Linked DNA regions of Homo sapiens. The protein of the gene in region 2 purifies or fractionates together with the protein of the main gene of each other region. This does not show direct contact. Each region holds a gene or a part of one and is shown on either strand. Other genes may lie near its edges.

Region 1 (17,221 bases), on a different chromosome or scaffold from region 2:
GGGGGGAGGGGGGAGGGATAGCATTAGGAGATATACCTAATGCTAAATGAAGAGTTAATGGGTGCAGCACACCAGCATGGCACATGTATACATATGTAACCAACCTGCACATTGTGCACATGTACCCTAAAACTTAAATTAAAAAAAAAAAAAACTAGGTGATAGGATGATCTGTGCAACAAACTATGCCACATGTTTACCTATGTAACAAATGTGCAAATCCTGTACATGTACCCCTGAACTTAAAAACTGAAAAAAAAAAATAACAATAGATACACTTAGAGACTTATCTATGGAGATACTCATCAAGGTTATTTACAGTAAAGAAATGGAAAAACCTTCAATATCTAACAAGAGAGGACTGGGGCCGGGCACAGTGGCTCACGCCTGTAATCCCAGCACTTTGGCAGGCTGAGGCAGGTAGATCACCCAAGGTCAGGAGCTTGAGACCAACCTGGCCAACATGGCGAAACCTGTTTCTACTAAAAGTACAAAAATTAGCCGGCCATGGTGGTGTGCACCTGTAATCCCAGCTACTGGCGTGTGCCTATAATCTCAGCTACTTGGGAGGCTGAGGCAGGAGAATCGCTTGAACCCAGGAGGTGGAGGTTGCAGTGAGCTGAGATTGCGCCACTGCACTCCAGCTTGGGTGAAAGAATAAGACTCCATCTCAAAAAAAAAAAAGAGAGAGAGGACTGGTTAAATAAATGCTAGTTCACCCACTCTAATGTAGCCATTGCAAATGATAAGGTTAGAAACTTAAGGCATGGAAAATAGTCATAATTGTATAAAATGTACACAGTAGTTTATAAAATAAAATGTATTGTGTGGGAAAAAAAAAAAAGCCCACAACTAATATAAATAACACTCAGTGGTAGAAAACAAAGGTTTCCCTTTAAGACCAAGAACAAGACAAGGATGCCCATTCTTGCCACTTCTATTTAACATAGTATTAGAAGTCCTAGGCAGAGCAGTTAGACAAGAAAAAAATAAATAAATAAAAGGTATCCAAATCAGAAAGAAGCAAAATTATCACTGTTTGTAGACGAGATTATCTTATATGCCGAAAACCCTAAGGATTCCAAATACCAAAAAAAGAACTGCTAGAAATAATAAACAAATTCAACAGTTTCAGGCTACAAAATCAACATACAAAAGTCAGTTACATTTCTATGCACTAACAAAGAACTAACCTAATGGCATTTTTTACAGAAACAAAAAAAAAGTATAAAATTCATATGGAACCACAAAGGACCCTGAATGGCCTAAACAATCTTCAGAAAGAACAAAGTTAGAAGCCTCACACTTACTGGCTTCAAAACATATTACAAAGCTATGGTAATCAAAATAGTATAGTAATAGCTTAAAGACAGAGATATACACTAAGAACAGAATAGAGAGCTCAGAAATGAACCCATGCATACACAGTCAAATGATTTTCAACATGGATGCCAAAAATTCACAATGGGTAAAGGACAGTCTTTTCAACAAATGGTGCTGGGAAAATGGATATATATATGCAAAAGAATGACACTGGACCCTCATTTTATATCATACACAAAAACTATCTCAAAAGGGATTAAAGATTTAAATTTAAGACTTGAATTATAAAATCCCTAGAAGAAAACATAGGAGAAGAGCTTCATGATATTGGTCTTGACAAAGATTTCTTGTATATGATATCAAAAGCACAGCCAACAAAAGCAAAAATAGACAATCAGGACTAAATCAAACTAAAAAGCTTCTGCACATCAAAGAAAACAACAGAGTGAAAAAGCACACTACAGTATGAGCAAAACTATATGCAAACTTGATTTAAAAAAACTTGATTTTTAAATGTGCAAAGGAGTTGAATAGACATTTCTCTAAAGAAGACATACAAATGGCCAGCAGGTACATAAAAAGACGGTGAACATCACAAATCATCTGGGAAATGCAAATCAAAACCACAGTAAGATATTTACTTTACAACTGTTAGGATAGCTATAATTTTAAAAACCATAAAACAAAATAAAAACAGAAAATAAACATTGGTGAGGATGTAGAGAAATTGCAACCCTTGTGCACTGTTGGTGGAAATGTAAAATGCTGCAGCTGCTATGAAAAACAATATGAAGTCTCCTCAAAAAATTAAAAATAGACTTACCATTTGACCCAGTAGAACTACCATATGACCCAACAATAGAACTAACATACGACCATTTCTGGGTATTTATCCAAAAAACTAAAATCAGGATCTTGAAGAGATCTTTGCACTCCCATATTTACTGAGGTATTATTTATAAGAGCCAAGAAGTAGAAGCAACCCAAATGTCCACCCGCAGATAAACAGATAAACAAAACAAGGTACATAATACAATGGAATATTATTCAGCTATAAAAAAGACAGAAATCCTGTCATATGCTATAACATGGATGAACCTTAAGAGCATTGTGCTAAAATGAAATAAGCCAGTTACAGAGGATAAATGTTACATGATCCCATTTTTGTGAGGTATCTAAAGTAGTCAAACTCATCAAAGCAGAAAATAAGAATGGTGGTTGCCAGGGTCTGGAAAGAAAGGGAAATAGGGAGTTGCTGTTCAATATGTACACTGTTTCAGTCACACAAGATGAAAAATTTCTAGAGATGTGCTGTACAATATTGTGCCTATGGATGAAATTGGAGGTCATTATGTTAAGTGAAATAAGCCAAGTACAGAGAGACAAATATGTTCTCACTCATATGTGGGAGTTAAAAAAGCGATCTCATGAAGATAGAGAGTAGATTGGTGGTTAACAAAGGCTAGAAAGGGTTAGTAGGAAGGGGAGGATGAAGAGAGATTGATTAATGAGTATAAACATACACTTAGAAGGAAAAAGACCTCGTGTTCAATAGATCACTGAGGTGACTATAGTTAACTAATCAATTGTACATTTCAAAATAGCTAGAATAATTTTAATGTTGCTAGTATAATGAAAAGATCAATATGTAAAGTGATAGATATCCCAATTGCCTTAATTTGATTATATGAATGTATCAAATTAACACATATACCCCCAAAATATGCACTAATAGATCTAATACATATCATAAAATTAAATAAAAAATAAGACGTGAAAAAATAAAAAAATAAAATTGCCACCTTACCACCACTAAAATCTACTCCCTCCCCACCAAAAATACTGTACTGCACACTTAAAAATTTGTTAAAAGGGTGTATCTGATGTGTGCTTTTTACCACAATGAAAAAAAATTCAACAGATAGGTTAACAGGGTTATATACAGCTGAAGAAAGATCTAAACATATATGGTAACTATAGTATAGGTTATACTACAGATTGGAGTACAGATAAACAGTGAAATAGGAGGAAAAAAATAAATGACAGGTTAAACATGAAGGATAGAATGATAAATTTTCGCACATCTAACCAGAGTGCCAGAAATACTATGCAGAACAGAGGTAAGGTAACATTCAAAGACATAATGGTTGGTACATTCCCATAACTGATGAGACATATGAATCCACACAAGATAGAGACAGACAGAAAGGATCACACACCAAATAGCAGATGACTCCTGAACAGAAACAATGTATATCAATAGACAATGGAATACTACCTTCTGAGTGGTGAAAGAAATCAAACTATCAACCTAGAGTTACAGACTAAGCAAAGCTATCGTTTAAGAATTAGGGCAAAATATGTCTTCAGATCTAAAAAAGTTCATCACTAACAATCCTGCACCAAAAGAACTTCCACAGATATTCATCAGGAAAAGAGAAAATGACACCCAAAGGAAACAATGAGATGGAAGAGGAAAAATAATAACAATAATAATAACTTTAAAATCATGTGTCTAATTCTATATGAACTGGATTTTTATAAAAAAAAAAGACGTAATAATAGCATGTAGGTCAGAAGTGAAGTGACAAACATTAAATACATTTCTTCTTCCAATGTATTGCCCTGCACACCCACTTTAGAGACCACTGATGTGTACTATATACATCCACCACTGTTCAGCTACAACAAACAACAATATTAGCTGCAATCATTTCAGAAGTCTTGTTAAAACAATGAGACAAGCCATAAAGGATTTGTAAATTTGATATGAAGGGACAAGTGCAAGGCACTCCACACAGAAAACAGTAAAGGTTCAGAAGTAGGGATAGGGACGGCATACCCTGTTCTTCCTCTAATAAAGTATCTTATACCATTTCATATGCTCTTCTAAAATCTATTTTTTTTTTTAAAAAAAAGGGTTCACACTCTGTCACCCGGGCTGGAGTGCAGCGGTGTGATCTTGGCTCACTGTAGCCTTTATCTCCTCGGCTCAAGCAACCCTCCCACCTCAGCCTCTCTAGTAGCTGTGAATGACTACAGGCACACACCACCATGCCCAGCTTATTTTTGTATTTTTAGTGGAGACAGGGTTTCTCCATGTTGCCCATGCTGGTCTCGAATTCCTGGATTCAAGCAATCCTCCCACCCCGGCCCCACAAAGTGCTGGGATTAGAGGCATGAGCCACTCTTCTAAACTCTTTAAGACACAAACAAAACAAAAGAAAACAAAAAAACACTTTCTCGAAGTAACAGCATGAGTACAGTAATAGTGGAAGGTGTCAGATTTTCATTATTCACCTTGAAGGATAGAATTATTAACCTTGGGTAGGTCACTAAATTTTCTCTCTGAAGGCTTCATTCAGCCTCTCAGGTTGTAATACGTAATGTCTACCCTCACCAATGTCACCAATATATTTTGATGATAAATGAAAAAATTCAAAGGGGGTGTTACAGCACTGATTTCTTATATACTGTACTAGTCACTGTGCTGGGCACTGGCAACACAGACTAAGGGAGACAAAGTCAGGCAATTAGATGCTATGTGATAGGTACTGTGACATGTGAAGGATGCACAGAAAATCCAAGGATAGTGACAAAGGTATGCTTTCCTCTCGCTTCTTCATGCCATTAACAATGATTCTCAAAAGACAAACTACTGATGGCAACCTTAGTTACAATAGGTAATCATTATAATCACCGCCATGAATTTCAGTATGTCACAAGACTCAACATCGAGTCTTTTTTTATTAAAGGCTTTTTAGTCTAACTGAATTCAATTTTAAAACATTCCAAGAAGTAGTCAAAAGAGTTTTCTTCATACTGATCAAAATTTCATCACAGAAAGCTAGGCTGAGCATTTTTGACCCATTAATAATTAGCATAATCGGAGTTTTTCCCAAATACTAAATTTTTTTTCTTGTTTCATTAAAAAACATGTAAGAGTAATGATAATATATTATCTATATCCATGGTGGAATTATCCAAATAAAATCTAACAAAAGAAAAAAAGAGAAATCTTTTTTACTCTTTTTCTGGACTTACTGTTTATAATCTAAAATCAAACACATTTTGCATAGATTCTATTATCTGCAACACATTTTTTTTACTTTACTACAAAGTGTTTATTGCCTTAAAAGTTAATCATTGGTTGTCCTGTTGTATTTAGCCCGTTGAGGCCTATTAACAAGGCACACACAAATCTTTCATCAAAGAAAATACTCCTGAAAAAGTACACATAGACTGTTCTTAGAGAAAAGCAATTCTTTCTCATTCTACTATATATAGCAGTAGTATATAAGAGATCAGTGCTATAATATTCCTCTTTTGGGATTTTTATTTATCCTGAATATATATTAGTGACACTGAGAAGGGTAGATATTATATATTCCCAAGGACACAAAATCCAAATACGTTATATGGATGACCAAAGAAATGTTTATATTAACTGCAAACGACAACGAAATATCAAGATGGTGTTTTAAATTACTGTATTTGTTGATTTTAATTTCTAAGGAAAATAAAATGTTTTTAGTTAGTGTCCTTGATATACCAAAGGACTTAGAACCCTTTAATAGTCATATGAATATAAAAGTTTTGTAACTATTTTTAAAAATATGTCATGTAATTGAAAATGACTATAAACAAAAATACATTTTGGCTGCCATACTGGCATTAATATATTAGCTAACAAGCAGGCTTGTTACTTTATTTCATCGATGAGAAGTAAAAATGGATGATGCCATTTACTACCAACTAGAGAATAAAGAGAGTCACCAATGGTGATTTCGTAGCCATCAGTGGTGGCCTCTTTGATAAACACCTATAACACCTATAAACCAATTTAGCCCTATTTACACAATGTCTTCTACCATACATTACTTGTTTGGGATTATTATCTCTTCTGTAAGCTCCTTGCAGGGAGAGACTTTATCTTAAACACTACTTCTATATCCCCTTCCCAACCCTTTACCTAAAAAATGAACATGCTGAGTGCATACTTATTAATTGACAGGTGTCATATAATAGATATTTTCCACAGCAATTAGGAGAAAATAAGGTGTGGGTAAAGTAAGCTAAATGGAGATATCATTATGTACAACACAATAAGGCACAAGACCATAAAAGTGACTTTGAAATAACATGTTCAGAAACAGCAAATCAGTTTATACAGCATAATCATTTTCAGAAGGTACTCACAACAAAATTTATCATACTATTATTGCTTAGCTTTAAAATCCTTTTTTGTGTGTTCTTACATGAGAAGCTGCATTTTGTGCTATTCCTTAATGCATATTTCTATAATTATATCTCATGTCTTTATGAAGTACCTTATTCATACAAGTATGAGAAAAGCTATACTATTCAAAATCTAAAAGAAAATAAAAACAATGTATTTTTCCACTCCTCCTGGGTTAACACATACAGTAATTTGCTAATAAAAACAAAGGTTATCATCTGTCATACTTTTCATTCACACTCTTGAATGACAGGCATTTTTTTAATGTTCCTGTTAGAAAAATTCTGTGCCAACTCGGCTTTAAAACCAACTCAAACCAAAATATCCATCTTTTTCTCTGAACTTGTTCAATCTCTCAATCAAAATTATGTATCAATTATATTTTCTAAAATAGTTATGATGCAAATGAAGTTCTAATTTATGATAGCAGCAGCCTTACACTATCTTTCCCATTTAAATGCACGGCGCTAGGGAAGACAAAAGCATACTCTGAAACATCTTCACAGGTCCTCTAACAATGGTCTCTTAGTAGAATTTCTTCTCTCTTTGTATAGTTATATTAAATTTCTGTGCTTCCCTCCTAAGATGAAATCATCTGTTTATACCCCTCCAACAACTCAGAAGTGAGCTTGTATCCTTTCTCTCATGCCTTTTGTCTAAGAACACCAAAGCGCTTCGTTATTTTATTTTACCAACCCCATGAAGTCAGTGGTATATCAAAAGCTGGACGGCTGATGAGATAACTAGACAGAGAGCTCTGGACAGCTGACCAAAACTTAGTACCCCTCTAGGTCCTTAAAATCAGTCGGAAAATCAGCCAAGCCCTATTTACAGGTCTTGAGTGTTTTAAACAAAAACAAAAACAAGAAAACCTTCCCACAAAGGAACTTGCACACACACACACAACTGTACTTTTCAGAAGGTGGAAATACAAGGGATCTTGTTCTTTTCGTTTTTCAAGAGTTTAAAAGCCCGGCACATCTGCATCTTGATAACAGCTCCAGAGGGCAATCTGATCAAAGACACAGAAAATCCCTCCTTTAAAGATGTGCACCTTGTGACACTCCAAGGAGGAGAGATATTTAAAGTAAAACCTGCCCTGCATCATTATCACTGACTTAAGGAAGAGATTAAAAAGCCCTTGGCTTCATGTGGCTTTTCAACATTTTGCTGTAACCCCAGGGCCATAGATGCTGTTCGTGAAATTCTTCTACTCATCCCTACTAAGAGTGTCACAGCAGTATAAACTCATACACAAACACGCACACATCTCCACTTCCATTCCCATCCTTCTCGCTTTGGTGCCCATGACCCAAAATGTGGACACAATGTTACAAAAAGCAAAGTCATGGGGCAATGCGGGGGGAGGAGGGGAGAGTGCAAAGGATTGAAAGATCCAGAAAAGCAAGAGTGTGAGAGGTAGCCGGCTCGTCTGCTATTGTAAAGCAAGCATTCATTCGGGTGGGGGCACAGAATGCAGAGGTAGAAATAAAGCAATCCTGACTGCCCACTCTGCCATCCCATTCTGCTTCTCTGCCCTCCATCACCCCATCCGCCCCTGGAGGACCACCTCCGAGCGAGAGGGCGCCACTTACGGTTCCCTACCCTCACCCTTGAGGGGAAACAAGCGAAATGGGGTTGGAATGAAGAATAGGGCTGAGCAGTGGGTGAGGGTCACGCCGGGCTCCAGGTGGAGACCCTGCCGCGGGTGGCCGCGCCGAGGCACGGGGGACGGCCCAAGCGCGGGTGAAGTGGGGATCAGAGGAGGGTCTCGCCCCCACTGCTCCCGAGGGAGGCTCCGGTTACTCACATTTTCCGTGTCCCGCTCGTTCACCGTCGGCAATGGCGTCCGGGCCGACATTTTGTGCGGGCAGCGGGGTCTGGCCGGGGTCTCGCCGGCCGGGCTGTGGTGCGGGCCCCGGGGGGCGACAGGAAAGGGGTGCGGACGCGAGCACAAGGCCGGGGCGAGCGGCTCCCGCAGGCCGCGGGGCGGTGCAACAAGCGGCCCCGGCGGGGGAAAGAGGGAAGAGGACGCGGAGGAAGAGGAGGGGGAGCCGCTTCCCGCGGCGGCGCCGCCGGGGTATGCGGACAGTAACGAGGGAGGGCTTCGGGCGAGGCGGTTGCCCGGCGCTGGCGGGGCGGCGAGGCTGGCAGGATGAGGCGTGGAAGGGGAGCCGGGAGGCGGTGGCGAGCCCCGCTAGGCTCTCCGGACCATGGGTGAAGGTGAAGCCGGTGCCTCAAATCACTGCCTGGCTCGTCCTGGCGAGCGCCTGGGCGTCAGGAACCGCGGCCCTGACAGCGTCACCCGCGCCGCGCCCCGTTCTCCGCCTCAGGTGTACGGCGCCGCCCGACCCAGCCGCATCCACGCGCCCGGGGCCCAGCGGCGGCGGCGCCCGATCCCCCGGCGCGAATGTCTCGGCTCGGTCCGCGCGGTCACAGCCACCGCCGCCGCCGCGCCTCAGTCAGGAGGAGCGGCCCGAGCCGGCTGCGCGCGGAGCAGCGGGCGCGGCACGCAGCGCCCAGAGGCACTTGGCGGCCGCCGCCGGGTGGGCGGGCGCCAGCCGAGGGGGCCTCTCCATTCATTCCCTCATTAGGGATGCGGGGCCGCCTCCTCCTCCTCCTCCTCCTCCTTTTTCTCCTCCTCCTCCTCCCGCGCTCTCTTGCCCGCCTGTCCCTGTGTTTATTTTTGTTTCGTGCCCCACCCGCAGAGTTTACGGTCGTCTAAGAGCCTCTGGTGGTTTTATTTTTATTCGTGTTTGGTTTTTGCCGGGTTGAGGGTGAGAGAGAGCTGATGTGAATCAGTGGCTTTTTTTTTTCTTTTTCTTTCTTTCTGTTTTTGTTTGTTTGTTTGTTTGTTTGTCCGTTTCATTGGAGAAGAATTGGATTCAATCCTACCCTGGATCCTACCCCTCCTTTTCTCCTACCTCGGGACTTTTACCATTCTTAAATTCTACTCCTCCTCCCCCGTTTCCACGCTTTCTCAATCCCTATCCTCGCCTGAGCCCTCTGTCAGTCTCCTTCTCTAGGGAGCCGTTAGGTTCAGGGTCACCCTCAGAGTTTGGCAAAAAGCACAGAAGCCCCTAGAAGCGCCAGCAGCCTAGGGAGGCGGCTGGAGACTCAGTACAAGTGGGTCTCAGCCCCCGACGGCGCGGCCTCTTCGGGAATGGGGCCGGCGGAAGACGTCTCGCTCTGGGCGCCCTGCAGCACCCTCGGAGTGGGTGAGACCCGCGAGTCACAACATCTACACTGGCTGATCGTCACTTCCTGGGACACAAGGAAGTGTCACTTAGGCGAGCCTGTTTAGGGAGGATGGAGAGCTGTGTCTGATTTGGGCCCTGTCCTCCCTCTTCCAGGTGGCTTCCTCACACTTCCACCCACCTGCCTCAAGACATCCTGTAGGCACCCGCGTCTGTAGTGCATTGTCCAGGACCCATTCGCCTTTTATAAGCAAGGCTGCATTTTTTTTTAATCTCATTTGAGAGCTTACATTTTGCACATTCAGCCTGTAGAACGAAAACCTTATCGTCTCTCTATTCTTCTTTGCAACATTTCTTTTTCACTTCCTTTCATGGATGGGCAGGAAGACAAAAGGAATGAAAGATAGGAGCGGATACATTGATTTTCTGAGCTGCTTCAGTATGCCTCCAGTGGAATTCTTATAATGGTGGGAAATTTCTCGTCTCTTCTGAATTTCCTCCATTTGAAAGAAGAATCCCTGAACCAGATGGTTTTTATCCTGACTCATTAAAGGTTGTTTCTGAAAAGTTAACACTTGACCCTTGAAGCATGGGTCCAAAAGACCTGAAAATAGCAAACACAAAAATCCTTTGAGGAAAGAAGCAATTCTCACCCAGTCTATATTCACTTCTAGAACACCATCTGTGTACTTATTTCTTTAGCATTTTCTCTTGTAACCACTTACCAATTTCACAAAGCAAATGAAAAAAAAAAAAAAAACAAGATCCCTTTGGTGGTCATCACCACTTCTCAAACAGAATTTAGGCAGCGGAACTGCAATGCTGCCTCCTGAACTATGATGTGTTACTGAGAATGTCAAGCATTTACGTGCCCTCTGCAGAAAATCCTGAATCACCAAGATACATTGAAGTTGCAAGGGCATAATCCTGTATTTTTCTGGTTATTTTCTGGTTAACTATTGCGACGGCTGCCTGTAGGGGCTGCCATCACAGTGTCAGCGGCATCACTGACTGCTGCAGCCACACAAGGGTACCTAGTGTTGCAATAGTACCTGAGTTAACCTAGCAATAAACAAGTAGCTGTGAAAAGGCGTTCAGCCCCATTGGAATATGAATCATTCCTTCAGCTGGTAGTATGTATTTTGCTCTTTAAAGTATACTCACATATTTTTCTATCTTTATAATCGTGGTGACCCTGACAGGCATATTTATTTCCATTTTACAAAATTCCACTAAGTTAACTTGTTCAAGATCACAGATGCACCAGGTTAATAAGATACAGAAGAAGATAACTGAAATATGTGGTGCTGTTCAATCTTGCACCAGTCACAAAAACCATAGGTTCACCCCATAAGATATAATGGCTAATTCGAGACAGAGCTTAAAGGAGAGCCCCAGATTCTGGCACAGTGGCTTCCACAGATTTTAAAGTGTCTGTTAAAAGCCATGGACAAATCCCTTAGCTATATTTGCTACACAATGCTCACTATTTCACATATTGAAATTTACGGAATATCACATAATAATAGGAAGGGATATTTATTGTTTAAGTCAATCCCCAAGAACACTTCTAACAGTGAAACTACATTCAAAGAGAGTCATTACTAGGTAGCTCGAATCCATAATTCTAGCTAGCCAAATTGTTTTTTTGGATAGAACAATTCTATCCAAAAGAAAATGCCATTCAAATAATCCTTATTAATACCTAACAATTTTAAGCTTGGTATGTAGTGAAAACTAAGTGAAAATGCACTTTGCCCAGGTTAAAAAAAAAGTCACTATGTTTTTCAAAAGGAAATACTGTCTGTCCCTATATGAGCTCTTCTCCCCTTAAAATGGCATTAGTAGATCCTTAAACATGGGAGAGGAAAAAAAAATGACATGAGGCATTATTGTGATGGAGTCAATACTGTTTAACCCTAGTCCTTAGAAATGAAAATGCTCATGAGCAAAATTTTTTTGTGTTACTATATATAGCTTCTGTGTCTGTGACTATGGAGAAATGACAAAGGGAATATTTTAAGGCTTTGAGTAATTTTTTTTTGGGTTATTAACCAAATGTGGCATGTTCAATTCACAGGTTCCTAACTTAATGTGTTAGGGTAATGAAAGTTTTGGAAGAAAATTGAAGTACTGACAAAACAAAAGGGAAATAAAGATCTAAAAGGTGCTAAACCTACAGTGAAAAGTGGGAAAAGAGCATTGCCTACCGTCAGCCCTATGGAGTAGAATTTTTTAGAACTACCGGGTCCAGTACCAGTTACATGTGACTACTGAGCTCTTGACATGTTGCTTGAATTTTTAATTTGACTCAATTTCAAATAATTTACACTTAAAAACCGATTTGATTCAGTGACTGAAAAAATTGTGTTATGTTTGAAAGTATGTTAAGTATATGAATCTACTTTTTCAACTGTAAATTTTCTGAAATCTATATACCGATTAAGTATTTCTCATGGAAATGTATTACCTGAATTGGGATGTGCTATAAATATAAAATGCACACCACATTTTCAAATAGTAGGAAAAAAAAGAGAGTAAGATGTCTCTTTATAAATATTATAACCATTTCATATTGAAATGCCAATATTTTAATATATTAGGTTAAATAAAATATATTATTAAATCATTTTCAACTGTTTCTTTTTTACTTTTTCAAATGCAGATCCTAAAAAATATAAACTTACATATGTGGTTTACATTACATTATCTCTCTGTTGGACAGTACTTCTCCATATGGTCAAAGCTGAGAATAAAAAGGCTTAGTTGCTTAAGAATCAAAGGCCTTGATTATAAGCTATTAATAATTCATTCTGTGGTAGAGTGGCACCCAATAAATGCTTGTTGGGCACCATTCTACCACATGCCATGCTGTGCTGTTCTAGGGGAATATTCTTCACCTAATAGTTAGCGGCAGTCAGTCTTACGCATTCTTTTTAAAGAGCAAAGTGGAAAACATGTTGAATTCATACAAATGAGCATTAACAGATTGCAGTCATTTGTAAACAAAGAATTTATCAAATGTGACAGATTCAGCAGATTAATAGTAAACTCTTAAAACTGCACATGTCTTTATATCATGTGCTTTAGATGTATCCAATGTCTGATAGACTTGGCCAGTCAATAATTATTTGCATACTTTGTTTTAGGTACTACAAGGCTATTTACAATCTTTCATTTAGCCACACAGGAAAACTACAGGATAGACAGTTCGGTAAGGTAACAAAGAGCAGTCTCAGCTAAAGAGAAACAAGGTTAATGTCCATCAGGAAAGAATAATCAGTCCTTGTCACAAATAAACTGGGTCCTGATTGCCTGCCTGTCTGGCAAGGTGAATTTTTATTGTGTCAACATTCACTACTTAAAATATAGAATCACTGAAATGGACAAGATCCTCAAAAGAAACGATATATCGTATTTTTAAAACTGCTTAAAGCTGTTGCCTTTTACATTGTATATATTGTCATAGAAGGACTGAAAAGTCCTTGTGATAATTTAACTTATACTTGTCTTCATAGCCATCAGCATATACATAAACTGTCAGACCCAGCAAGGGTCAGCTCAATGCTTTTTTTGGTTATGCCACTCCACACCTCACAAACATAACCTCCAAGAGTTGTTTACTCTTCTGTTTCCCACAAGCACTGTAGGTTCAGCGATGTTCGTTTTCTTGGAATTCCCCGAACACACCATATTGCTTGACTCCTCCGTGCATTTGTGTCATCTGTTCTGTCTTCCTGGAATGTCCTCTCCTCTTTTCTGCCTGATGGCCTCAGAGTTGGTCTTTAAAAACCTTCCTTTAGAAACCTATCCTGACACCACTGTTTCTCCCCACACCCACAGTTAATTAATCACTCCCTGTGCACTACCTCTGTACCTTGGACATACCTCTACTGTTGCTCTCCTTGCACTGTGTACCTGGCTGGTCCCCTATCCACCTGTGCACTAGGAAAAGGAAGGGAATATGTCTTATTTATTTTTGCCTAGAACCTAGCACAGTGCTTAGCAATTAGTAGATGCCCAATTTCCTAAATGACTTTTATTGACTTGTATGTTCTCCTGAACTTTCACATTCTTTTAAATTTCTAAGAAGCATCATTGAAAATATAGGAGAATTGAAAATATAGGAGGATAATTAAAGTCTACAACTGGGGGATATAAGAGTTTACATAGTATGCAAAGTATCTTCCCAGTAAATGTTATTGACTGGGTAGCAAAGTGACTCTATTCTGTCTCCTACAGATTACCATAGTGCCACTAATTTTACTGCTCTGTGATTTTACTGTAATTATTCATTTTTATCCATACATAGGAATTGCTGATCATTGATATTTCAATAAGTCTTTTAAATGAGTATCTGCATAAACCAAGGTGTACTGTACTTGGTCAGGAGGAAACACTTCAAAAGTAGGTTGAAAAATTAAAAATGGAATGACACGACAATGAAGTGCTAGAGGCAATAGAGCTGGCGGTCAACCCCAGGGAACAGTCATCAGAAATTGGGTGACTCTTCCTAAGTGAAAGCCTTTCAGCAGACTGAGCGTCACAGTGTCACTTGGCAGTGCAAATTGGCACAGCAAAACAAAGAACAAGACACATGGAAGTTACTATTGCGGTGAGTTATGCACTGGTCTTTAGCAATGCTGGAAAAGTGCAGGTGAAAATCAACATTCATAGCGTGATCTCAAAGGAACAATGGTTGCATATGAGTTCATAAATGTATCAGTATAGATATACCCACATTATTGTACCTTCCATACTGTAGTTTTGTAAAGTCACATAGAAAGCAAAACAATCTCTTAAAAGTCTTATGGTAGCCTCCCTAAAGTAGGAGCTTGGTTGTCTTTTACTTGGCATTTGTGACTACAAATTACACATAATGTAGTTCAATGCCCTTTTAAACAGGCTTGCAATTTGAGTATTTGATTTCCTAGATGACACACTAAGTGAATTGTTCCCTCATGTCTTTATACTTACCTTATTAATATAAAAATGTTATTTTTGTAGGTTCTTTTTATAAACTCAATTTATTCAATGCCTTCAAATTATTTTTTCTATGTTAAATGTGACATCACTTAACATTTTGTTGATTTCTTCCTTTTCTACATAAATACACCATTTTTCACTTTGCTTTTCATTCATTCATTAATTTAAAAATATATAGCTCTGTTAATGTAAGGGACTATTCTAAGCTCTTCAGAAACAGCAGTAGACGAAATAGACAAAAATCCCCACCCACATGAAGTTCACATTTTTATAGGTACTTTCAGTGTCTAGACAGTTCAAAACCAGAGACTCCCATTATACAAATAATATTTTGTTATGTCTTGATTATATTACTCTTTTAACAAACACAAGCACCCAGGTTTAACTTTTCTAAAAAAATTAATGAATTACAGCAGCTAGATCTATTCTCCAATCCAATTATAATTTGCTTTCTGCCTTAATATTTTGGCATTTCTCCAATAAGCTTTTGTATAAACAGCTTCAACTGGTTCCACAACTAGCTTAGGTACTTGAAAACCATAATAAAGATGCCTTCCTGAGCAGGTGACTTATATTTGATCTACATTTCGTAATATTACACCAGCTTTATTATATTGACACCAGTACACTTACTACATTTCAACATTATGAACTGCTTTATCTTCAATAACTGATAGTTTTCTATTTCTGTTAGTGCTAAATAATATTTTTGTAGTTCAGCAAAAAATCATATAGTAAATAGGAGTCTACATTATAACCTAAGCAAAAGCCTTTCAGCAGACTGAAACCATTTAATCAAATGTGAGATTATCCAATTTAATTATCAGTGCAGCCCATCAAAGTTGATGTGTAAACTTTATAACTCTGTAATAGTAGAAACAGCTTTATTATAACTGTTTTAGCAGTACTTTTTTTTCAGATAAATAAACAGTTTTGGAATACTCTTTCCTGTCCATTTCATAAAAACCAAGCTCCCTATTACTTTAGTAATATATTCTACTTTTCTTTAATAGCTCTTATAATAATGACTAAAATAAAGCAATTGTGAATGTTCAGTCCAATACCGTGTCTCTAATGCCTAGCACAGTGCCTAGCATATGGGAGTTGCTCAATTAAGCAGATGAATGGATAGTAGATTTAATCATGTGTCTGAATTTGAGCATATGTTTTCAGATCCTGGATTTCTTTCAGATGATTTTAGTATATTACCACTCATAAGCGAAGAACCCAGGTTAAGTGTCCTTAATCTTTCCAAATTGACCCTCTATAGTCACCCATTGGGCACTTGCCATCCATTGCTTAAGAACTCAATTGCCAAGACTCCCATATTAACTTTTTCCACTATTTACTAATATCTTCCTTTTCTAGCACTAAGACAAACATCTAAATTTCTAAAGTTATAAATGTGTCCTTTTAAAAACATTACAATCATGGAATATGCATCTCAGAAGATTACCATGGCTAGAATCCAGGTTTGTTTACATATGAAAAAGTATATTTCATTTGTAATATTTTTAACCATTCTTTTGTTATCTACTTCTGTCATATCAAACTCTTAACAATAAGCCACAATCAATTGCATACTGTTGAGCATGTACTATGAGTTCTGTTCTATTCTAAGAGGTGCTAGGTATGAGGTATGATGCTAACATGTTGCAATTAATATATATATATATATATATATTTTGAGATGGAGTCTCGCTCTGTCTCCAAGCTGGAGTGCAGTGGTGCGATCTGTGCTCACTGCAGTCTCTGCCTCCCAGGTTCAAGCGATTCTCCTGCCTCAGCCTCCCCAGTAGCTGGGATTACAGGCATGCACCACCACAGCCAGCTAATTTTTGTATTTTTAGTAGAGACGGGGTTTCACTATGTTGGCCAGGATGTTCTTGATCTCCTGAGCTCATGATCCGCCCACCTCAGCCTCCCAAAATTTTTATATAAATACAACAAGAGTTGTATGCAAAACTTGAGCTGAGCTTTCAAAGTAGTCACTCTGAGGAAGTATATATTTAATACAATGATGTGATGGTACACTTTATGAATTTATTTTGCAAGAGCTCTGGAACCTGTAGTTTGATGTTTTGTATATTCTCAGGGGTGGTAAATCTTTGTCTTTTGATGACTTATTTTTAATGAAGTATCTGTTTGGAAACAACTTTGATGAACTGCATGGATAATTAAATTGGATAATCCCACATTTGATCAAACAACAGAAATGTAATAGTAAAAACAACAGTATTTTCTTATGTTCATCAAACTGGATCATTCCTCAAAGGAGCATTTAAAACAATGAATGATGACAGCCTCTTTTCAAGTATAAAATCTTGAAAAGTAACTATTTTAGGATATGTACTAATTATTTTACAATCATTTCTACAGGTGGTCATATGGTGCATGCAGTTGAGGAACATGCAGTCTTAATAGAGTAACATGAAAAGTTAAAGAACAAAATACAGTGTTAATTGGTAACTGTCCA
Region 2 (16,230 bases):
ATTATATCTCAATGTGATTTTTTAAAAGGCACAACATATCTTTTTTTTAAAAAAAGACATAGAATAAGGAAAACCAAAAAAAGGTAGGAAACAATAAATAGATCAAAGAAAAAAAGACTATCAAGAATACACAGAAAACATATAAAGAGTTAACTATTTTTTTAGGTTGGTAAATAGAACTATTTGGTGGAAGAAAATTTCTGAACAGAGTTGCATGAGAATCTGTTCAAACATGACACGCTACGTATCCCGGCTCTAGTGAGTCAACTGCATCTTTGTCCCCCTTTGATAAAAGGGTCTGACAACTTCTGTTCTTTAATTTTTTAACTGTAGGCTTTACTCCCAACATAAACATTTCACAAAATAAATTTGAGAGACTACTACTATGTGCCAAGAATTGTACCAAGTACTTTTATATGTTATTTCTTTTAATTACATAATCATTCCATACTTAGACATTATCCCCCTTGTTTAATCAGTTAAGGAAGCTGAAAGCTCAGAGAAATTTAGTAATCTGCCAAAGGTACCTTTGGCTGTAAGCAGTGATATGGTTTGGCTGCATCCCCATCCAAATCTCATTTTGAATTGGAGTTCCCATAATCCCCATGTGCTGTGGAAAGGACCTGGTGGGAGGTAATTGAATCATGGGGGCGATGGTTTTATAAGGGCTTTCCCACCCTTTGCTTGGCTCTCATTCTTTTTCCTGCCGCCCTGTTAAGAGGTGACTTCCGCCATGATTTTAAGTTTCCTGAACCTCCCCAGCCAAGCAGAACTGTGAGTCAATTAAAACTCTTTTCTTTATAAAAAGAAATACCCAGTCTCGGGTATTTCTTCATAGGAGCATGAGAACAGACTAATACAGTAAAGTGGTACCGTAGAGAGTGGGGTGCTGCTATAAGGATACCCGAAAATGTGGAAGCAACTCTGGAATTGGGTAACAGGCAGAGGCTGGAACAGTTTGGAGGTTCAGAAGAAGACAGGAAAATGTGGGAAAGTTTGGAACTTCCTAGAGACTTGTTGAATAGCTTTGACCAAAATGCTGATAATGATATGGACAATGAAGTCCAGGGTGAGGTGGCCTCAGATGGAGATGCAGAACTTGTTGGGAACTGGAGCAAAGGTGACTCTTGTTATGCTTTAGCAAAGAGACTGGCGGCATTTTGCCCCTGCCCTAGAGATCTATGGAACTTTGAACTTGAAAGACATGATTTAAGGTCTTAAATTTCTAGGAAGAAATTTCTAGGTGGCAAAGCATTCAAGATGAAGCAGAGCATAAAAGTTTGGAAAATCTGCAGCCTGTTGATGTGACAGAAAAGAAGAACGTATTTTCTGGGGAGAAATTCAAGCCTACTGCAAAAATTTGCATAAGTAACAAGGAGCTAAATGTTATCACCAAGACAATGGGGAAAATGTCTCCAGGGCATGTCCGAGACCTTCATGGCAGCCCCTCCCATCAAACACCTGGAGGCCTAGGAGGGAAAAATGGGTTTCCTGGGCTGGGCCCAGGGCCTTGCTGCTTTGTGCAGTCTTGGGACCTGGCGCCCTGTGTCTCAGCTGCTTCAGCTCCAGCTGTGGCTAAAAGGGGTCAAGGCCACTCTGAGGACAGTTCAGGCCATTGCTTCAGAGGGTGTCAGCCCCAAGCCTTGGCGGCTTTCCCACGGTGTTGGGCCAGTGGGTGCAAAGAAGTCAAGAACTGAGGTTTGGGAAACTCCGCCTACATTTCAGAGGATGTATGGAAACACCTGGATGTCCAGGCATTAGTTTGCGGCAGGAGGGGAGCCCTCATGGAGAACCTCTGCTAGGGCAGTACAGAAGGGAAATGTGGGGTTGAAGCCCCCCCACCCCCACAATCCTCACTGGGCAGTACCTAGTAGAGCTGTGAGAAGAGGGCCACTGTCCTCCAGATCCCAGAATAGTAGATCCACTCACAGCTTGCACTGTGCACCTGGAAAAGCTGTAGACACTCAATGCTAGCCTGTGAAAGCAGCCAGGAGGGGGGCTTGTACTCTGCAAAGCCACAGGGACGGAGCTGCCCAAGGTGGTGGGAGCCCACCTCTTGCATAAGAGTGACCTGAATGTGAGACATGGAGTCAAAGGAGATCATTTTGGACCTTTAAGATTTGGCTGCCTGCCAATTTCTCCCATTTGGAATAGGTGTATTTACCCACTGCCCATACCCTCAATGTATCTAAGAAGGAACTAACTTGCTTTTGATTTCACAGGTTCACAGGTGGAGGGGACTTGCCTTGTCTCAGATGAGACTTTGGATTTGGACTTTTGGGTTAATACTGGAATGAGCTAAGACTTTGGGGGACTGTTGAAAAGGCATGACTGTGTTTTGAAATGTGAGGACATGAGATTTGGGAGGGGCCAGGGGCAGAATGATACAGTTTGGCTGTGTCCCCACCCAAATCTCATCTTGAATTGTAGTTCCCATAATCCCCATGTGTTGTGGGAGGGACCTGTTATGAGGTAATTGAATCATGGGAGTGATGGTTTTATAAAGAGCTTGTCCCCCTTTGCCTGGTTTGCATTCTCTCTCCTGCCGCCCTGGGAAGAAGTGCCTTCTGCCATGATTGTAAGTTTCCTGAGGCCTCCCCAGCCATGCAGAACTGTGAGTCAATTAAATCTCTTTTCTTTATAAATTACCCAGTCTCAGGTATTTCTTCACAGCAGTATGAGAATGGACTAATACACACAGTTAAGGTCTGAACCCAGATTTGACTTCACGGCCCATGCACAACGTTTTAAGCACTTCGGAATTAAGAGTTGCTTTATAAATATTTAACAGTCATGTTCCTACAACCCCTACACAAAATAAAATGCACCACATATACAATTTTCTTAAGCCCAGTGACGTCATAAAATAACAGATGGCAATCAGACTGGGGCTCTTGGCTTAACAGATACTTTGTGTTACGGGTTGAACTGTGCCCCCCTCAAAATCATATTATATGTTCAAGGCTTATCTCCCAGTACCTCTGAATGTTACCTTGTTTGAAAACAGCAGCATTGTGGATTTAATTAGTTAGAATGAGATAACAGTGGAGTAGGTTGGACCCCTAATCCAGTATGACTGGTGTCCTGATAAATAGGGGAAATCTGGAAAAAGACAAATACATAAAAAGAATGCCATGTGTACATGCAGACAGAGATTGGAGTGATGCATCCACAAGCCATGGAGTACCAAAGATTGCCAGCAAACACCAGATGTAAGGGGAAACTCATGAAACAGCTTCTCCCTCACCGCCAACAGAAGGAACCAACCCTGCCCACACCTTGATCCTATTTCCAGCCTCTGGAACTGTGAAACAATACATTTCTGTTGTTTAAGTCACCCAGTTTGTGGTACTTTCTTATGGCAACCCTAGCAAATGAATACATTGTATAATTATATAATTAAAATTATATAATTTTCTGTAAGTTATTTCCACATTCTGAAACCCAGATTTCAACAGGTGCCCTTTTTCATGTTTTTCTTCTTCCAAGGCCTCTTACCAAATATTTTAAGTACTTTCTACTTCACGCTATTTGAGTTACATTATCTGAATCATGTTATTGAAAGATGGAATATATTCTTTTCTAATGAACTGCTAAACAGATAAATTATGAGTTTCTCAAAGCATAAATCTTAGCAGATCGAAGAGTCTCATTTCTTTAAAAATTCACTGACAAATGCTCCTCCAATGAGAATTAACAACTAGTTTCTTATCTAGTGCTTTTATTTGCTGCATACCTTCCTCTCTTTCCTTTAGTTCTCACTAATACTGTTCAACATAGAAAAACTGCACACTTGAGAAAAGGCCTTCTTCTTGGATTTCTCGCTAATTTGGAGTTCTTATAATGACTATTTATGGCACTAATCATCTTTGATGATACCCAATTTGCTGAAGTTCATTTCCATAATGTAATTTCTCATTTTACAATTCCACATTCAAAAATTTTTTACATCTGACTACTATTTGGCACTTTCAAAATTTATGTTTATTTTTGTGGTTCTCTTCAATTTTGAACACTTCCTTCCCTTGCTTTTATATCTCCATTGTCTGTTTTTTTTGTTTTTTTTTTTTGAGACAGGGTCTCACTCTGTCTCCCAGCCTGGAGGGCAATGGCATCACCTTGGCTCCACCTGCGAGGCTGAAGCAGGTGATCCTCCCACCTCAGCCTCCAAAGAAGCTGAGACTACAGATGTGTACCACCACGCCAAGCTGATTTGTGTATTTTTTTGATGTAGAGATGGGGTTCTATGAAGTTTCTTTAATTTTTCCAAGATCTTTCAACTTCCGCTCTTGCAGCAACCCCCTACCTCACCAACTTGCCTAATCACTATTTGGACTTAATTTGTTTTTTAATCCAACAGTAACATTTTCATTACCTTTCAGTTTTCCTTCCAAAAATATTAAAACATAAAACTGGCAAATTTCCCTAAAACCAACCTATGATAAGAATAATAGGAATTCTACTCATCTGGTGATTTTAAAAGTTCAACAAGATATGAGGTATACAAAGGCAGATGCCTAAGGTGAGACATGAAACTACAGAACTTAGGAAAACTAATTCTATCTGAAGATATTATACCAAAAATCTCTACCTGTTTTAACTTTAGTAACTGCAAATAAATTACTTCTATCTTCACCAATGAATCATTAGCAGTTTAAGGAACTGGTTGATGAAATACCCACAATATAATTTTAAACAGAGGATAAGAAGGACAAGCCAAATGCCCAGAAGAGAGTCCAGAAACAACCTTAAATAAATATGGGACCGTAATATATGATGAAAGTGGTGTTTGAAACCACTTGGAAAAAGGTTAGTTATTTAATTAATGCTACCAGGATACATAATTAGTCATGTGGAAAAAAAACTAAAAACATCAATATCACTCCTTAAACTAAAATAACTTCCACAGGAATCAAAATTCAAGTGTAAATTTTAGATGAAAATATATCTACATTCATATAGAGAGATAGTCTTTGAGAGAGAAACACCTATCTAAACAAGTAAATACAGAAGCCGTAATAAAAGATGTCAATAAGAGTATGTAAAAATCTAAGATTTCTCTAGGGCCTAATATAGACTATAAAACAAGCAAAGAAGAAACAGACAAGTGACAATGTGGGGGAAAATATTTGCAACAAATGTGCCAAATGGTTAATTACCATATGAAGAGTTTCTACAAGCCAAAAAGGAAAGAAAAACCAAAAAAAAAGTGCATAAGCAATTGGAAAAGGAAAAAGAAATAAAAATGGGCTATAAATTATTAAGTTACTCAACCTCATGGATAAAAAGTGCAATTTAAAATAATAAGATACCATTTTAATGTAGCAGTTTGACAAATACTTTAACATTTGCCAAACCCAACTTCCTCAATACTTGCGGGTAAGGAGAAACAGAGGCACTCATTCACTACTGGTAGGAGTGAGGAGTGGTACTCTTGAAGGAGTATTTGACAATAACTAAAAACAAATTTTAAAGTACATATTTGTTTCAATAATGATTGTAATAAAAATTAGGCATGATTTAAATGTGCAAAAACAGGGTCCAGGCAAATAAATATAATATATCCACACGATTCAACAGAATATAACAGTTAATGTGTAAGTTGTATTAAAACAAGGTGCAGAACAATAGGCTTAATATGATACCATTTGTGTAAATATTTATGAAAGATATAAACAAATCCTTGTATAGTCCTACATATTTTCTGAAAGGATGACCAGAAATTTAAGTTTGGTTGTCCCTCAAGTGCAAGACTAAAAAGCAGCATGTACTTCTTAAACTTTTTAATGCCACAAATTATATTTTTTATCATGTGCACTTTATTTTAAAAATAGAATATAAAAAGTAAACAGTGTAAATATTCCATAAACATTTGCTTTTAATTGAAACAATTACAACTAACATATTCAGAATATCTACTATGCGGCAAATTTTGTAGCAGGGGCTGGGTCTTCTAAGTATCAAGCTATAATAACTGAAGAATTCAACTGTCTTTCTACAAACACTTATTCTACATACAAATAGCTCTTTTTACACAAAGTAAGGGAATACTATTTTTCCTCTCACCTACTTACTGTCAATCCTTTCACATTAAGGAATAAATTCTCTCAAGACATACTTTCTTCCTTGAAATTATTTCACCCACTTTATTATCACACAGATAAAGAATATTGTTTTTATAAATTAAGAGTGATTTAATCATTAAACTAAGAATGAACTTAAAATGGATTAGGCTCTATCAAGAAATGTGGGTTCAGATGCTAGGTCCACCAACAAATAATATAGTAATGAATGGTTACAGTAAAGTCACATCAACTCTTCAAGCCCAGATTTCTTTGTACGTGAATATTATCAATTTCATAAGAGTGCCATATAAAGAAATTAAACATTTACATTCTTTGTATTCTGACATGAAGTGACAATAGGCATAGCCCATATTTAAGGAAAAAAAATACCAAGAGATGCCTATTAAAATTTAATGAGGAATATTACTATTACATTTATTTATTTAACTAAAGTACATACTCTAATTTGTAAACTCATCCTGAGTTCACTGAATTCAGTTATATTTTTAATTTCCTTTAAATATGTAACATGGAGTCTGTGAACCCAAAGGGCAAGGAAAGTTCAAGTTCAATAATATAAATGCTTGTGTTTTTTCCTATCATCCATTTCATTGTATCTAAGACTACCACACAGATTTTGTTGCCTAATTCATCTTTTTACTTCTACTTTTATCTCTCCTTCAAAGAATTCAAATTGTTTCTTGTTCCTACGCATGTCTTTTACTATGTACCACAATGAAAGTTATGCATGTACATATAGCTATAACAAAAATCAATTACAATAAAGTAACACTGTTTTCTTCCTGAGAAGATGGATATAAATGTTAAAATTTAAATTTTTTGTTTAATTTAAATTAAACATTTAAATTTTTTGTTTAATTTAAATTAAACATTTAAATTAAATGTTTAATTTAAAATTTTCTTTTCTCCAAATAAGCCAGGCAACATTATTATAGTCCATAATTCAAGACAGAATAACTATATTTAAATCCACAGAAACTAGCATGGTACTCTAGGAATACTACTACTTAGAGAATAATAAAGATAAAATTTAATTCCTCCCCATTTTTACATCAATCATTATACTATTTTCAAAGAGTTAAGCATTGCAACTAATAAACATCCAATAATAATACGCAAAAGAAGGGGAGTGGAGGATCAAGGAAAAACACTTCAAGATCGCAAGGTACATTTCAATCCACTATTCTGTCCATTGATATGAATAATGATCTATCTCGGAAGAAAAACACCCAAAATATTAAACTAGATACAATTTCTAAACACATTACAATGTACCACATACCAGTCAAAATAAATACTGAGCCTTTATGTTAAAGCTATTTCCTAAAAATTGTCTCTAAGAATAGAGAGCGTAGTTTCATTATCAACACTTCCAAATATTTCTTCTGTGTTTCTCTAACTTGATATTCAATTCTAAACTTTTGTTTTCAAACTTTGAATATACAAGGGGGGAAATAATGTATAAAAAATAATGTAAAAATACTGTAAGATTTTCCCTAAATGCATAACAAACATACGCTAAGTAAGGATTAGATATTAACGGAAATCTGAAGTATTATATATATATCTTTCACTTTTATAAGCCAAATAAATTCTATCACAAAATGTGACTTCTCTTTGAGTGAGTTAGTAAACTCTGTATTTTTGTTTTAACGTACCCATTTTCAGATTTTAACTACAACAGCTCCCTTAACTGACCTCTATTTAACTGTCTGGCCTTAGCCAACACTTTTTTTTTTTTTTTTTTGGCCCATGGCATGCTGACCATTCTTAACCAGTATGCTATTTTTTGTATTATCAGGTACTTCTGTTCTCACTAGTTGGGTTACATGCTTAACAAGTCAGTTGGTTGTTCCCAAACCTGTTTATGCCAGTTTACTTGTTATAGTTCTTACATATCTTAAACATTATTCATGTCTAATGACTACGAGTGCAAAAAGGAACAGTTGTTTCTATATACTAAGTTAAATGTAAACTAAGTAGGCCAGGCGCGGTGGCTCATGCCTGTAATCCCAGCACTTTGGGAGGCTGAGGTGGGTGGATCACTTGAGGTCAGGAGTTTGAGACCAGCCTGGCCAACACAGTGAAACCCCATTTCTACTAAAAATACAAAAATTAGCCGGGCGTGATGGCACGTGGCTATAGTCCCAGCTACTTGGGAGGCTGAAGCAGAAGAATTGCTTGAACCTGGGAGGTCGAGGTTGCAGTGAGCTGAGACCACAGAACTGCACTCCAGCCTGGGTGACAGAGCAAGACTGTCTCAAAAACAAAACAAAACAAAACAAAAAAACAAAAAAAGAACAACAAAATGTAAACTAAGTAGAATGACTCAACGAAGGTGAGTTATTCTTTTAAAGGGTGTTGAATTGGAGAAAAGTGATGTAACTGCAAAATATAAGGGGAAATCATAAAAAGTTAGAAGGAGCCTATACTTAGAGTTTTTCAAAAGTTATCTTCAGGCTTTTATTCCACATTAGAGAAATCAAAACTGTAAATAGCAAATCATGTGTGAGGAACATGAGAACAGCTTCTCCCAACTCCACAAAGAGATGGCATTAGCTCAATGTTAAAAAGTTTAAAAATGAATTTACATTTATATTTTTAAGTTAAAATTTTAGAATGTTACTTACAAGATGTATTATTTTTAAATATTCAGTAACCTACAAAGTAACTGTCCCAGCCTCAACAAATAAAAAGGCTTCAAACATTTTTTTTTCCTGAAGCCCTTAAACTGGTTTGATATACCCACCAGATAAAAACTACATGTCTATGCAAAATAACAATATGTAGTAAAAACCACAGTAAAATCACTTTATGGAAAAAAGTATTAGAATGTATATTCTACAAGGACAAGGATCTTTATCTTATCCACGGATGTATCCTGAACACGTAGAACAGTTCCTGGTATGTAGCTGACACTCAATAAATATTTGTTGAATGAAGAAGAAAAGGAACTTACTGTGATGACAGCCTTGCTAAGACAGATGGATCCTCTGCAGCCATACTCTGTTTCATCTTCAGATTTGTAGTAACTCAGAGCATTATTTTTCAAAACTACCCAACGATCCTGCCACCCATGAATGTAGTTTGTCCACTGGGAGTGGGAAGGGGAAGGGAAGAGAGAAGAAAACAAAAAATAGAAGTATTTTAGAAATCCAAACTTTGTGAAACAGCAATCTAATTTTAAAACCAAAACGTGAAAAGTCCAACTTAATTCTAAGCATAAACAGTAAAATGATTACAAAAAGTGAAAAGTTGAGATTTTCTAGATTGCATAATGATTTTCAGTAATTTTTACAATATTATAAATAAATCTGTAAGAAATAAAATATAACATTTTCTTCTAACATTTGAAGAATAAAACGAAAGCCAGATTTTGGTTAAAATTATTGTTTATTCTTCGTATGCTTTCATCCTCTCCTAAGTACCTTCATGATATTTGTTTTGGTCCTTGTCATAATTAACATATTCAACAGAGAAGTATGTTCAGTTATGTATGTAGTCTCTCATTCTGACACCAAAGACTGCATGAAGCCTTCTAAATCAACGGAAGTATAAAGTCAATTATTGCTAAACTCTACTTTTGTTGTTATTCCTATATGAAAATTTATAACAGCTGTAACTATATCAAAATAAAAATAATAATCTTTAGTAAGCTGGCATCAACTTTAACTTTTCCTCTACAGAACTGAATAATATTAAAAATGGCCAATACATTTTCCAAGTTCCTCTGAACATGCATTTTTCAAACTCAAGAGTAATAAAACAAAAATAAAATTGCTTTTCAAAAACATATTGGATTGTCTTCAATACCTTAAGAGTTTCTGTGTTGCTAAAGTCTTGCTGCAAAGTGAAGATCACAATAAACTGGAAAAGGCAGAAATGTAACCTTTACAGGAATACTTATTTTTGCATGTTTTTATCTATGCTCTGGGGTGTTAAGTATAGAAAAATCTCAAAAACTATCTGCCAATTCCAAAAACTAATTAAAAATGGATTGCCAAAATATACTGCATTGGCTCAGGCTCTATATCCACTGAGAAATCTTTTATTTTTCTGTTCTCTAATTAAGCATTTTTGAGATTGATTCACTTCTTAAATTTTCTTTTATTTAGTATTTTCTTGAGACAGGGTCTCGCTCTGTCACCCAGGATGGAGTGCAGTGGCACCATCTCAGTTTACCGCAATCTCCTGGGCTCAATCCTCCCACCTCAGCCTCCCAAGTGATTGAGACTACAGGTGTGCACCCCCACATCTGGCTAATTTTTTGTAGAAATGAGGTTTCGCTATGGTGCCAAGGCTCGTCTCAAACTCCTGGGCTCAAGCGATCTGTCTTCCTTGGTCTCCCAAAGTGCTGGGACTACAGGTGAGCCACCATCCCTAGCCAGTTCTTAATTTTTCTAAGCCCCATCATTACAACCACTCTCTGAGAACTCACCCAAGCCAACATTTAACTCATTCTAGTGGCTCCCAATCACCATTTCCTTATTTCTAACTGCTTGAGATGTACCACCACTTAGACACGGGCTTGAAATAAATGATAGTTACCAATAAAACTGAATTCACCTTCCTATAAAGTATACTTCCTTCCTATTTTCCTACTTCCTTGGGGAGACTGCTACTTCTGCTCAGAGTTAGTGTATTAGATATACAAACAGATTAGTGGATATAGGATAAAATAGGCTCAACTATTTTATAACTCATGTGAAGAGAGTTTTGACAAGTTACTTTTGTAAACTTCAGTTTCTTTGCCTGTTGACTGACGGCCGAATAAAATAATGAAAATGCCTAGCATAGTCACAGAAGATACTCAATACCTAAGTGTTCCTTCTCAATATTTATAGCCCATTACCAAAAGCTGCTCATCTTTCCTTCATAGTAAACCCTTAAATTTGCCTCCTCTTCTCATTTTCAACTATTCCAATCAAATTATCCAGTTCCTGTATTCCTTAGGAGACTTAATAATTTTTTCTCTAGTATCTTCTGTTTTTTTCATAATTTACACAAGCTTATTTACTTACTAAGCATATTTGCCTACTTTTCTTACATTGATCGTATTGAGTCTCTAGCTCCAAAACTTACATGGACAACTTCCCACTGACTGTCATACAAATTGTTTAGGGCATTCAAGACCCTTCATGGATTAATCCTACCTCATTTACAATTACCACACTTCATAAGGCTAAACTTTGTGACAGTGGTCAAGTTACTTATTCTCTTTGTGTTCTTTTTTTCTTTGTCAAATTCTCTTAGAGTTAAGTTTAAACAAGAATAGACTTAGAACAGTGCCTGGACATAGTATTTTCTGAATCTGAGGAAGAGTTATACATAGCTAATGAAGCTTAACCTTCAGCATTTCTCACTAGAATAGAACTCTTTCAATGTTAGAGGAGAAGCCCCAGCAATTATGTATCCATAACTTAATATTAGTTCTTATAAGAGACTGAACAAACTGTATCAGCTTCAGGACCCTTTACTCAGTAAGTATTAGCTGTATCATGACACCTGGAAGACAAGTTTTTTGTCTTTTCTCTGCTCTCATAATGTTCCCTCACTCTTCCCCATTTAACAAATACAGATAAGGCAATATGCTAGACACTGCAGGGGAATCAAATATTACTGTGGCCAACAGGCCAGCAGACACAAACTCAAGAGAAAAAAATATATATTTAGAATAAGAGTCAGAAGCAAGCTACAAACAAAATGCTATGGGAATTCAAGTGAAGGAGGTCTTGAATGATGGCAAAATAAGAAAAGGCTTTATGGAAAGGACAGTATTTGGCTTGGACTCTTAAGGATGGACAGAATTTCAAACAGTTTGGTGTGTGGAAAAACAGAAGGTAAACCATGAAGGATGGAGGAAATTCAGAAATTGAATGAGATTATTTTATCCAGGCTTAGGTGCTCTCAAGTCCTACTAAGGCATGCATCTTTTCCCCACCATGATCCATCACGATACTTGCTATAACTAGATAGAATTATTGTCTATCTAGTATTTTTGGAATCTATACACTTAAGTGATTTATAAGAAATATGCTTCATAGGTATTTCCATGTATTTCAGATTACCATATGGAAAATACCCTTTGAACTGGTATATTTCTAATATAAATTTACCCAAGCCCATTCCAAATCCACCCCATTTTGGGGGAGAAACAAAATGAATTGTACCGGGACTTATTTACATTACTCAATGGAAGGAAAAGAACAAAATCCGAGTTCTGACCTTTGTTTAAATTACCAGGTGAATACAAAGAATTCAAACTATATAATTTACATTTAAAAACATCTACCATACTCAGTATGAGTATATATACTCAATTTAGAATACCCTTGATTAAAAAGCTTCCAGAAAACTGTATATAACCATAAATTGGTAAATCTCAGGAAAATTTCCTTCATAGCTTTGAGCAAGAATACCAAAAGCTTTATTCCTATTCATTCTACATATGCAGCAACAGTCAAAATTTAAGCTATTCACCTTCCATAGAGGTGATCAAATACATTTGTATGCATTTAAATATCGAGATTGGTCTTCCATTTTTTTATCTATAGTATACCTACTCCAGAGCACTGGTTACTTTTTCCCCCGGTCACTCCACTCCCCCAACCCCCAAAAAAGTAATTATCAGTAGGTCAAAAGTACAATTTGTTTCGTAAAATACTTAACACATCACAATACTAATATGGCAGTCAGCTTCCCATCTTATGAGCAGTGATGAAACTACCAAAATCACTGAGAAGCAAGTAACCCACTTCCTATTACCAACTGAAAATGTATACCTACTACACAATGTGTTCAATAGAGATTCCTAAATTACAGGATACATTTAATCTAAAGAAATCCTGAGGAGCTTCTCGTTACTGAAAACCTTGCACTGAAATTTCAAGAATGATCACAGCATCAATATACAACATAATTTTGCTGCTATACAAATAAAAGTCAACACTTGCAATCCTTAGTTCTGACTACTCATGCCTTTCCTGGCCCCCTTCTCATTAGCTTTCTAGACATTATAAAAGCCTAATATGAAACAATTCCACAAATAATGTCCAAGTGATTTGCCAAATATGAATACTGGAAACAGGGTGATTTCTTAATAGCCACTGGCTGCACATGACATAGTATCTTATGACCAGCTTGTTGAGGGACTGGCCCAGCTCCCCCTCTCCAAGTTAACTGCTAGCTCCAGCCATGTCTAAAAAAGTTTAACAGGAAGGGAGAGAGAAGTCAAAAAGGCTACGTGAATCTTCTTACAGCAAAAACTTAAAAAAAAAATCCCCACAACTATGTAATATCAAGAGATCATCCACCTGCAGTCCTATAATGACTGCTTTGCTAAAATTTTGATACAGGGATTTTAAAAAATATATAAAAGATAAAACATCTTTTCCTTACCCTCGACCCCTTACCGCAAAAATATTTTATTATTAAGTAATGCTCTTCCTGGACTAAAGATCAGTCTCCATTCTCACATGTTCCAAGTTACTATGAATATTTCCTGTACCCATCATGTGCCGATTCAATATCTCTATTCTGAACTAAGGTACAGGGTGAGGGAGAAAGTCCTCCACATTCATCTGTCTCACTACATCTAACCTAGCAGAATTCAACACCTCAAATTTCAACACCAAGCTGAGTCGCTCCAGCTTCTGTCGAAAGAGTTGCGTCCGCAGTGCCCCCCAACCTACTCGGCTTGGCATCCTCAGAGAGACCAACCTCTTTTAAGAGGTCCGACTTGAACCGCTCCCATGCCCAGTCGTTCGGACACCGCTGAAGCCCAACCCGGATTCCTTACACCCGGGACAGCTGCCGCCCTAAGTCCCAAGTCACGGCGCGCATCTGGCCTCCCAAACTGGATCTCAGGTTTATACACCCTTTCCCTGGTCCTCGGCTGCCCCCGACGAGCCCCCGGGCAACAAGGACAGTGCCCCTATATCCCCGCCTCATCCCTAGTCGCTGCAGCAACACTCAGCCTCGCACCCCGGCACGTTCCGCGCCTCCCGCCAGCCCCACCCCACCGCCTCAGCGGATTGCCTCGCTGCAGGTGAGTCTGGCCAGGGGTCCCTTGGCACCAGGGGTTGCTCACCTTACTGAGGACCCCGCAGCGCTCCACAGGCGGCCCAGACTCCGTCTCTGGATCCTCCTCCGAGCCCGACGAGTTCCAGCTCTGATTATCCGACATGGAGGCTCGACAACCGAGCAGGAGACCGGCCCCCGCTCCCTCAGCTGCGCCGGAGGAGGCGCCCAGTCCTCGGGGTGAAGGGTCGGGGGATGGCGAAGCGAAGAGTGCCCGCTCCGGTGTGGGGGGGAGCAGGAGGAGGGACGAAGTCCGCCCGCCGCGCCGCCGCCGCGCCTGACACCGAGCGGAGCGAGGAAGGAGGACGAGCGGTGAAGGAAGCCTACCCTTCCAGCCGTCAGCCGCCGCCGCCGTCGCCGTGACCCCTGCGTTGCGCCCGGCGCTGCCACCCGAACTTAGCCCCCTCGATGCCAATTTCAAATAGGGAAGGAAAAGGGAAAAGAAGGGAAGAGAAAATCCGGCCGCTGAGTCCCGCGTCCACTCACACCTCCGCTACCGCCGCCATCTTCCTGCCTGGCCCACTATTTACCCTCCCCTCCCCTGTCCTTTCCCCTCCCCTTCGTCCTCCCATTCTCCCCCACTACTCCCCGCCCCGTCCCCCTCCCGGCGTCTGACGCGACACGCCGAGCCTTCGGGATCCTCCTCCCGAACCCTACCTCCGGCTCTCCCGGGTGACGACGGGTAGAAAAGCAGGAGGAGCGGAGAAAGGAGAGGGCGGGGTAGGGATGCAGCTGTGCTGCATTCTGGGAAGGGCGTTGGTCCGTCGCTCGCGCAGCCTCCTGGGAGTTGTAGTCGCGATCCTGAGGTAACGGGTGAGTATCCCGCGCGGGGATCGCTTGTCCCCTTGGGGCCTTGTCAGTCGGTGGGTGGGCTTCGTTTGACAGTTGCGTGACCAGCCCCTCGGCCTCGCTTCTATCCTTGCCTTGTGTGTTTATGACGAACCCTCCGGGCTTGCGGGCCCAGACGTGAGAGAGCTTTCCGCTGAAGATGACGGGCCTGCTTTCCAGGGCGGCTTGTCGAAAGCCCGGGAGCATCTGGCCGCTTCCGCCTCAACCATGGGCTGGGGTTTTGTGAGCTACTAGTGCCAAGGGTTTTCTTTCCACCAGACCACCGCTGTAAATCTCGAGGGTCTTACTCATTAGAAGTTAGAATTCACATTTGACGTTTAAAGGAAGAATTTCCTTAGTACCTTCTCACAAGCACGCACTTCGCATTTTTAGATTTCTAGAGTTTGCTTTGTAGAAAGTAATTTTGAGGTTGTCAGAGAATAAATGACGTTAGAAAGGTTTTTAAAGTAAAACAAGAATGTGAGATGATAGCCTGGGATTTTCTCTTGGTTGTAAATGAATATCTTACTGAGAACCACGTTAACCATGCCTGCCCCTCAAAGATAGGAAAGGTTGGATATATAGAAACTTTCTCGTATTAGAAATACCGAAGTGCAGTGGTTTTGTGTGTACAAGGGATTAGGCAATAGGAGGCTATTTTTGTTTTAAGACTAGGGTTGAATTAGCAGAAAGACCAATAGAAGATCTAACAACTCTTGTCAGTTGTCAAGGATAACTTTGATTATGAGACTTTGACTTTGTAGCTTCAGTAATTTCCTCTCGTTAGCTATTTTAATATAGTCGATTTCCTTGTAATTGCCAAGAGTAAAATTTGTTATTAAACCTTAGAAAGAGTACTTTCTTACTACAAGGATGGGACGATAGGAGCGAAATTTCGAGTCTAAGGGAAAACGCTGGCCGAGTGTGGTGGCTCACGCCTGTAATCCCAGCACTTCGGGAGGCCGAGGTGGGTGGATCACCTGAGGCCGGGAGTTTGAGACCAGCCTGGGCAACAAGGTAAAACCCCGTCTCTACTAAAAATACAAAGATTAGCCGAGCATGGTGGTAGGTGCCTGTAACTCCAGCTCTTTATATCCTGGTTTCAAATCTAGGCTTGATGACCTTCTCCCATATCCCAGTATCATATTTTTTTCTTCCTGCATGGGGGATTAATTACGATTCTGAATGGTTGGTAGCATGAAGCTAGGTTATCCCTATCGTGGCAATGGATATTTAA

What was found.
Region 1: the proteins of CERT1 (region 2) and MARK1 purify together in Homo sapiens (affinity purification with mass spectrometry; 2 studies listed by BioGRID and IntAct, with this or other methods). This does not show direct contact.

What each region holds. Positions count from the first base shown.
Region 1 is NC_000001.11:220,520,025-220,537,245, reverse strand, and holds the start of MARK1 (serine/threonine-protein kinase MARK1), read right to left. Parts: upstream 9,111-17,221; 5' UTR 8,424-9,110; coding exon 8,373-8,423; intron 1-8,372. UniProt on the Homo sapiens protein: Serine/threonine-protein kinase. Involved in cell polarity and microtubule dynamics regulation. Phosphorylates DCX, MAP2 and MAP4. Phosphorylates the microtubule-associated protein MAPT/TAU.
Region 2 is NC_000005.10:75,496,937-75,513,166, forward strand, and holds the start of CERT1 (ceramide transfer protein), read right to left. Parts: upstream 14,694-16,230; 5' UTR 14,570-14,693; coding exon of another isoform or gene 14,272-14,569; coding exon 14,176-14,271; intron 14,134-14,175; exon of another isoform or gene 13,838-14,133; intron 9,181-13,837; coding exon 9,046-9,180; intron 1-9,045. UniProt on the Homo sapiens protein: Shelters ceramides and diacylglycerol lipids inside its START domain and mediates the intracellular trafficking of ceramides and diacylglycerol lipids in a non-vesicular manner.